Homo sapiens: one gene and its partner. The protein of the gene in region 2 purifies or fractionates together with the protein of the main gene of each other region. This does not show direct contact. Each region holds a gene or a part of one and is shown on either strand. Other genes may lie near its edges.

The links. The genes of interacting proteins can lie anywhere in the genome.
Region 1: the proteins of CUTC (region 2) and XPO7 purify together in Homo sapiens (co-immunoprecipitation; 2 studies listed by BioGRID and IntAct, with this or other methods). This does not show direct contact.

What each region holds. Positions count from the first base shown.
Region 1 is NC_000008.11:21,978,602-21,982,352, reverse strand, and holds part of XPO7 (exportin-7), read right to left. Parts: intron 2,270-3,751; coding exon 2,150-2,269; intron 623-2,149; coding exon 476-622; intron 1-475.
Region 2 is NC_000010.11:99,730,268-99,734,018, reverse strand, and holds the start of CUTC (copper homeostasis protein cutC homolog), read right to left. Parts: upstream 1,786-3,751; 5' UTR 1,671-1,785; coding exon 1,610-1,670; intron 1-1,609. Other genes in the region: heme A synthase COX15, read left to right, coding at 1,970-2,059. UniProt on the Homo sapiens protein: May play a role in copper homeostasis. Can bind one Cu(1+) per subunit.

The sequences.
Region 1 (3,751 bases), on a different chromosome or scaffold from region 2:
AACTTGTTAGAAACACCAAGGCTCTACCCTGGACCTACTGAACCAGAAATTATGGGGATAAGACTCAAGAATCTATATTTTTTCATCAGTCCCCTAGATGACTGTGATACAAGCCATAAAATTTGAGACCCATTGTTCTATATTACATGACTAAGAAAGAGAGGGCATCAACTCTCTTTTTACTCTTCTGTCTAGCTCCCTGTTCCGACCTTGGCTTTTTTGGGGTGACTATGAGCTAATTCTCTCTGGGATGAATCTAAATATTATCCTAGTAATTCCCACATGTTCCTCTCCCCACACTACTTGCACTTGTGTAAATGTAAATCACAGGCCACAATAGTAACTACTCTGTAGGGCTATACTGGACTTATGGTTACCTTTGCCAAGAAAAAAAAATATATTCTTACATGGTTAAAACCAACAAGCAAGAGATTCCAGTATTTAGGAAGGAAGACACAAGTAATCAAAGACAAACCTGTAGGCTGGTCACTGTGAAGTTGGCTATCAATCGGATGACCTCAGGGTAGTTTTCCACCTTTACCAATTCTCCCAGTTGATAGTTACTCTTCAATCGGGCCAGTAGTCTGCAAAACTCATGGTAATTGTTTGGGTCTGATAAACTCTGGCAGTAGCAGAGGAGAAAAATAAAATGTAAAATGTGCCTTAACATACTTCAAGAATGATGTATACTTGAGATGGCATGGGGGAAGGGGTAGAATCTACTTTTTAACTTCTGGGCTGCAGGTCATGATTCAGAATGATACGTCTGCATAATGTTCAGAAACAATTTTTTAAAGTCACTTTGAAAAGGGACAGTCACATTTATTATCTCATATGTTCACAATAATAATCACATGAGATGACATTATTAGCCTCAATGGACAGAGTTTGAAACAGAAGCCCAGGAGGATCACACTGAGGCTGTAAAGCTCATTATAGCAGAAGTGGGCACGACCTAAGACGTGACTGACTTGTTTTCTTATTGTTACCAATCAAAGGAAATCTAATGAAATTTTCATTTCCACGTCTGTCAAACTGATCATTCAGCACAACTAACCGATAGTTAGCAAAGTTATACAAATGTTTCATATATTTATATCACTTACTGTAATTTATTCATATAGTAGTATTTATATGATATAGCAAATATTACAGCTATTTTAAAATCTATTCTACCAGTATATTTAATTGTAAGTTTCCTGATATGTCTTCTTCTGTTAGCATATGTGGGCTAAGACTTTGTTTTGTTCACCCGTGTATCCCTGGCACAGAGTAGGTATTCAATGTAATTTGTTGAATGAATAAATGAATTTTAAAAAGAGGGACAAAACTGAGTATATTTTGAAATAAACTGCTTTTTAATTTTCTTCTAGTATAGAGAAGTGATACTTTCAAAAAAATACTGAATCACTGGGACTTCAAAAGACAAAAAGGGCAATCGAGTTATGAAATTAACGTTTGAAAGAAGTATCTTCCTTCCCACCTAAAAGCAGCCCTATATACTTAGGTTACCGATAAACATTTTTTAAAAATGGTAAACAAAATCAAAAACCAAATGTTAGTTTTTTTTTTTTTTTTGAGACGGAGTCTTACTCTGTCGCCCAAGCTGGAGTGCAATGGCATGATCTCGGCTCACTGCAACTTCTGCCTCCCGGGTTCAAGCGATTCTCCTGCCTCAGCCTCCCGAGTAGCTGGGATTACAGGCACGTGCCACCATGGCCGGCTAATTTTTTTTGTAGTTTTAGTAGAGACAGGGTTTCACTATGTTGGCCAGGCTGGTCTTGAGCTCCTGACCTCAAGTGATCTGCCCACCTTGGCCTCCCAAACTGTTGGGATTACAGGCGTGAGCCTCTGTGCCCGGAGATGTTAGAGTCTTAACTTCTTGGGGGGAAAAATGACTAGCTTCTTCCTTATTTCCTTATAGCGAAGTGATTCTTTCCTGTAACTCCTACATTTCTGAAGCGGGAGGATATAAGCTCCTCTTTTGGGCAAATAATCTCAGAATTGGCCTACAAATAGAGATTCACTTCAGTCTTCCCTGAAGAACAGACTGAATTGTTTACTGGGCCTTGGGATGGATTTCCTTCTGACTCATAACAGCTGGCCATACACTAATCCTATACATATGTAAATTCTCAGATAAACTTACCTGTGGGTTTTCCAGTATTCGTTTAACACCATCAACAAGATGAGAGAGAAACTTGGCCCTCTCTGCATTGTTAAACAGGGATCTTCTGACTGAAGCGATCTGTACCAAGCAGGATAATACCTAAATGCAGGGCAGAACCCAAACACAACGATTAAAAAGACTGTACAGTTACTTTCACCAGAAACGTTCCACCTCCTACAATATCCTTCTTTAGGATATCTGAAGCAACATTATTTTAAAAAGAGAAAAGAAAAGAACATAGATCCAAGCAGACCACGGCAGCCCATTAAATTCAGTTTGGAAATTCCCTTAGGTACAAATTCCTTTGACCACTCCAATGGCATCTTTGTTCTTGCTGAGATACGTTATTTCACCCTTAAAAATATCGAGCAATTTATACTTTAAAGTTTTAGATTTAGTTTTCTTGGCTAATCTGAGTTTGACATGTAGATGTTATGTGCTTATGTCATTACATGCTATAAAGAAATAAGCGTATCGGCCGGGTGTGGTGGCTCACGCCTGTAATCCCAGCACTCTGGGAGGCTGAGGCAGGCAGATCACGAGGTCAGGAATTTGAGACCAGCCTGGCAAACATAGTGAAACCTCATCTCTACCAAAAATACAAAAAATTAGCTGGGCGTGGTGGCAGGCACGTGTAATCCCAGGTACTTGGGAGGCTGAGGGAGGAGAATCGCTTGAAGCTGGGAGGCGGAGGCTGCAGTGAGCCGAGATCGCGCCACTGCACTCCAGCCCGGGCAACAGTGAGAGACTCCGTCTCAAAAACAAAAAAAAACGAAAAAAAAAAAGAAAAAAAAAAGAAATAAGCATATCACATCTGGGCCCTAAAAAAGCCAGCTTTGGCCAGGTGTGGTGGCTCACGCCCGTAATCCCAGCACTTTGGGAGGCTGAAACAGGCAGATCACCTGAGGTCGGGAGTTTGAGACCAGCCTGACCAACATGGAGAAACCCTGTCTCTACTGAAAATATAAAATTAGCCGGGCGTGGTGGCTCATGCCTGTAATTCCAGCTACTCAGGAGGCTGAGGCAGGAGAATCGCTTGAACCCATGGGTAGTGCCATTCCACTCTAGCATGGGCAACAAGATCAAAACTCTGCCTCAAACAAACAAACAAAAAAACACAACCCAGCTTTATCCCTGAAGACATTTCCCTCTGTTCCCACTGTGTTAGATATTTACATTCTCTGTTTGCCCCCTCTAGATCTGCTTTCGACCCTTTTCCACCCTGCCCTATTCCCTAGGAGGCTGACCTCTGTTGAGGAGAGCAGCCAAGCTCCCTTGCCCTCTGGCTTCTAGTTGGCTTCAACCAATGGAAAGTACCAGCAGGAGATTAGAGGGCAGAGGGAACAGGGTACCCCTCTTCCGACCATCCAGCTGGCTATGCAGTGGCAGAGTTTCTCTAGTGATGGCTGTAGTTCTTGTTGTCCAGCCCTCCTCTAAGACACAGCTTCAACTCTCTCCAGGTTTCCTTCACTTGCCCTTTGAGGCTCCCCACTACTGCCAGCCCCAGGGGCATGCACCACCACCCCGTGCTGGTGTCCCTTAATTTTACCCATACCTTTGCAAGTAGTACTCTCTTAATCA
Region 2 (3,751 bases):
CTTAACCAACAGCTCTGCATTATTAACTCCATGAGTTTCCTGGTAGCTACCAGACCAGCTGTCAGATCAGTGGCACTGGCCGATGCTGATGCTGCCGGGGGACTATTTGCCTCACACAAGAAAGGACCCTAGGCAGGAGAAGATGGAGAGATGTATAAAAAAGGCTATGACAGAAGGCAGAGCAAGGCAGTTGTCCCAAGCAACAAAGTTATAGGATCAAAGGAGAAGCAGCAGCAGTTCTCAAAGTGTAGTAGTCCAGAGAGCTTTGGGAGCCTCTGAGACTTTTCAGAGTCTGCAGGGCTACAACCGTTTTCTTAATAATTCTAACACTTTATTTGACTTTTTCACTTTAATTCTCTCACAAGTGAGAGGCGTTTTCTTTTTTGAGGCAGAGTCTCACTCTGTCACCCAAGATGGAGTGCATTGGCGCGATCTCGGCTTACTGCAACCTCCGTGAAGAGGCGTTTTCAAGAGGCTACTTGACATGTTAGACTGAATGAAGCAGCGGGCATGAGAATCCAGCTGTCTTCCATTAAGATATACTGAAGAAACTTGCAAAAATATATTTCCACTCTTTTGCTTTTTTTGTTGTTGTTGTTTAGGAATATTTCTTTTTCAAAAAAATATTATGTCAATATGTAATGGGTTTACTATGGTTATTTTCTAATCAATATTTTAAAATTTTGTTTTAATTTTATTTTTATTTTTTTGAGACGGAGTCTCGCTCTGTCGCCCAGGGTGGAGTGCAGTGGCGCGATCTCGGCTTACTGCAACCTCCGCCTCCCGGGTTCAAGTGATTCTCCTGCCTCAGCCTCCCGAGTAACTGGTATTACAGGCGCCTGCCACCATGCCCAGCTAATTTTTGTATTTTTAGTAGAGACGGGGTTTCACCATGCTGGCCAGGCTGGTCTCGAACTCCTGAGCTCAGATGATCTGTCCCCCTCGGCCTCCCAAAAAAAAATTTGTTTTAATTTCTAATACAGTCAAAATAGATAGATGTAATCCACATAAAGAAAAAATCTTTGAGGATTCTTGATAACTTTTAGGAAGGTTCCTCTTCACGGAGGAAGAGGGACTTGCCAAATTCTCTGGCACCTGCCATGCCATGCTACCCTGGCACTCAGGAAGAACTCGGGTCTTGGAGCAGCCACAAGCTCGGCCACTTGGTAGCTGCGTGACTTTGGGGACCAAGCCCCGTCCCCGCCGTGGCAGCTACAGGTAACTGCAGGTTAGGAACTGGGCTCCGCGCTCGACAATTAACTATCCCAGCGGAGTACTGGCTGCTGGTGCGGGCGGTACTGGCATCCTCGTGTGGCGACGGAAAAAACGTGAAGCTGAAGTTAACCAACTTGCACAAGGTCGCAGGGCCGTTATGAGGGGACCCCGGGACTCGAACCTTGGCTCCACAGCTGAGCCATTCTCGCTACCTGCCCCTCGTCACGCCCTCCGTTTCCACACCTTTAACGCCTCAAAGATAGAAGGTGCCGCCCAAGGGGCTGGAAGGAGCTGAGGAAACGACTCCAGAAGAAATCACCACTGACTACGACTCCCGCCGGCCCGCCCCGGGGAGCCTTCGGCCGACCGTCCCCTCCCCCGCCACCTTCCGCACCGGCCTTCCCGGACGGTATCCGCGCTCGTTTTCGCTCAGAGGAGGCCCCCTGCCTTTTCATGCTCCACGCGTTCCTCCCTCGTGCGCCTGCAGTTTCCACTTGGAATTTGGGCTCCGGCGCGCACCAGCTAAGAAGCGCGTCAACAGCTGCGCGCGCCCGTGCGCGCGTCCCCGACACCTACGCCCCAGCAGCCCCCGCGAAAGCGGAGTCGCAACGCAGGCGCACTTCTGTTCGCTCCGGTCCCCAGAGAAGGCGGGGCTCCCGCTGCCCGACCCGGAAGTGCTTCTCTTTTCCTTGGCGGAGGAGGGAGACCACAGAGCCCTGGGTTGTGGAAGAGGTGGCTGTTCCCTGTCATCAGTATGCAGCGATTGCTCTTTCCGCCGTTGAGGGCCTTGAAGGGGAGGCAGTATCTGCCGCTCCTGGCTCCTAGGGCAGCGCCTAGAGCACAGGTACCGCACTGCAGCGGACTCCGAGTCGCGGGAGCGGGGATGGAGTGAAAGGGCCGGGATAAAGATAATGTAGAGCCCCACATCACGTTTCCGGAGCTCCTTACAGTGCACTCACAACGCATAGGTTCAGATCAGAGCCCCTAGGTTCAGATCTGGAACATTGACCTGCTGTGTGGTATTGGCCAAGTTAATTAAACTTTCTGTTCTTCAGTTTCCTTATCTGTAAAATGGGGATAACAATACCTACTTTAAGGTTTGTTATGAGGATTACATTCTTTAATATACATCAGGCCTTTAGCACATGGTAAAAGCTGAGTAATTTTTACCCATATAGTTTATTTTTGCTTAAAAAGTTCCAAGTAGTCAGATGAGGAAGTATTACTGCATCCTACAGAGAAGGAAATTGAGGCTTAAAGTTACTTTTCTAAAGGTGACTCAGTTAATCAGAAATAGGAAACCGAGCATGGATCTTTGGACTCACAGGGATATAGTAAGAAGAGGGCATGCATTTGCTTAACTAGTAATTATTGAGTGGTTATTATATATTAGGAACTGGAAAAAGAAAGATAAATATTACAAGACTCCTGCCCTGGAGGAAGTCAGTTTATTCATTTGCGAAATCCTTATCATGGTCTCATTATATAAAGGAACAGTGTTAGAAACAAAGCTAGCAGAAGGGAGAGAGCAAGACTGACCGGACACTGCCACCCCAAAGCTCATAGTTTAGTGGGAGATACAAACAGATGAACCTGAAGGTAGAGTGATGTGCTGCATAACAACATTTTGGTCAACAACAGGCCACAGATACAGTCATGGTCCCATAAGATTATAATGGAGCTGCCTTTCCAAGTGTACCTTTTTTTTAAAAAAAAATCTTTTTCTCTAAATTTCTTTTTTAGAGACAGCGTTTTACTTTGTCACCCAGGCTGGAGTGCTGTGGCATGATTATAACTCACTGCAGCCTCCAGCTTGGAAATCCTGGCCTCAAGCATCCTCTTACCTCAGTCACTTAAGTAGCTAAGACTACAAGTGTGTGCCACTGTGCCTAATTTTTGAAAAAATAGAGATAGGGGGTCTCGCTACATTGCCCAGGCTGGTCTCGAACTACTGGCCTCAAGTGATCCTCTCACCTTGGCCTCCCAAAGCCTTGGGATTATAGGCTTGAGCCGTTGCACCTGGCCCCATTTTTAAATCTTTTATACCATATTTTTACTGTAATTTTTCTATGTTTAGATAAACAAATACCATTGTGTTACAGTATTCGGTACATAATATGCCATACAGATTTATAGCCTAAGAGCAATAAGTCATACCATATAGCTCAGGGGTGTAGTAGGCGATACCATCTAGATTTCTGTAAGTACTTTTTTTTTTGAGAGATGGAGTCTCACTTCATCGCCTAGGCTGGAGTGCAGTGGTGAGACCTTGGCTCACTGCAACCTCTGCCTCCCAGGTTCAAGTGATCCTGCCACCTCAGCCTCTCAAATAGCTGGGATTACAAGCATACACCACCATGCCCAGCTAATTTTTGTATTTTTGGTAAAGATGGGGTTTCACCATTTTGGCCAGGCTGGTCTTGAATTCCTGACCCAAGTGATCTCCCTGCCTCTGCCTCCCAAAGTGCTGGGATTACAGGTGTGAATCACTACACCCAGCCTTTAGATTTGTGTAAGTACATTCTATGAGGTTCAC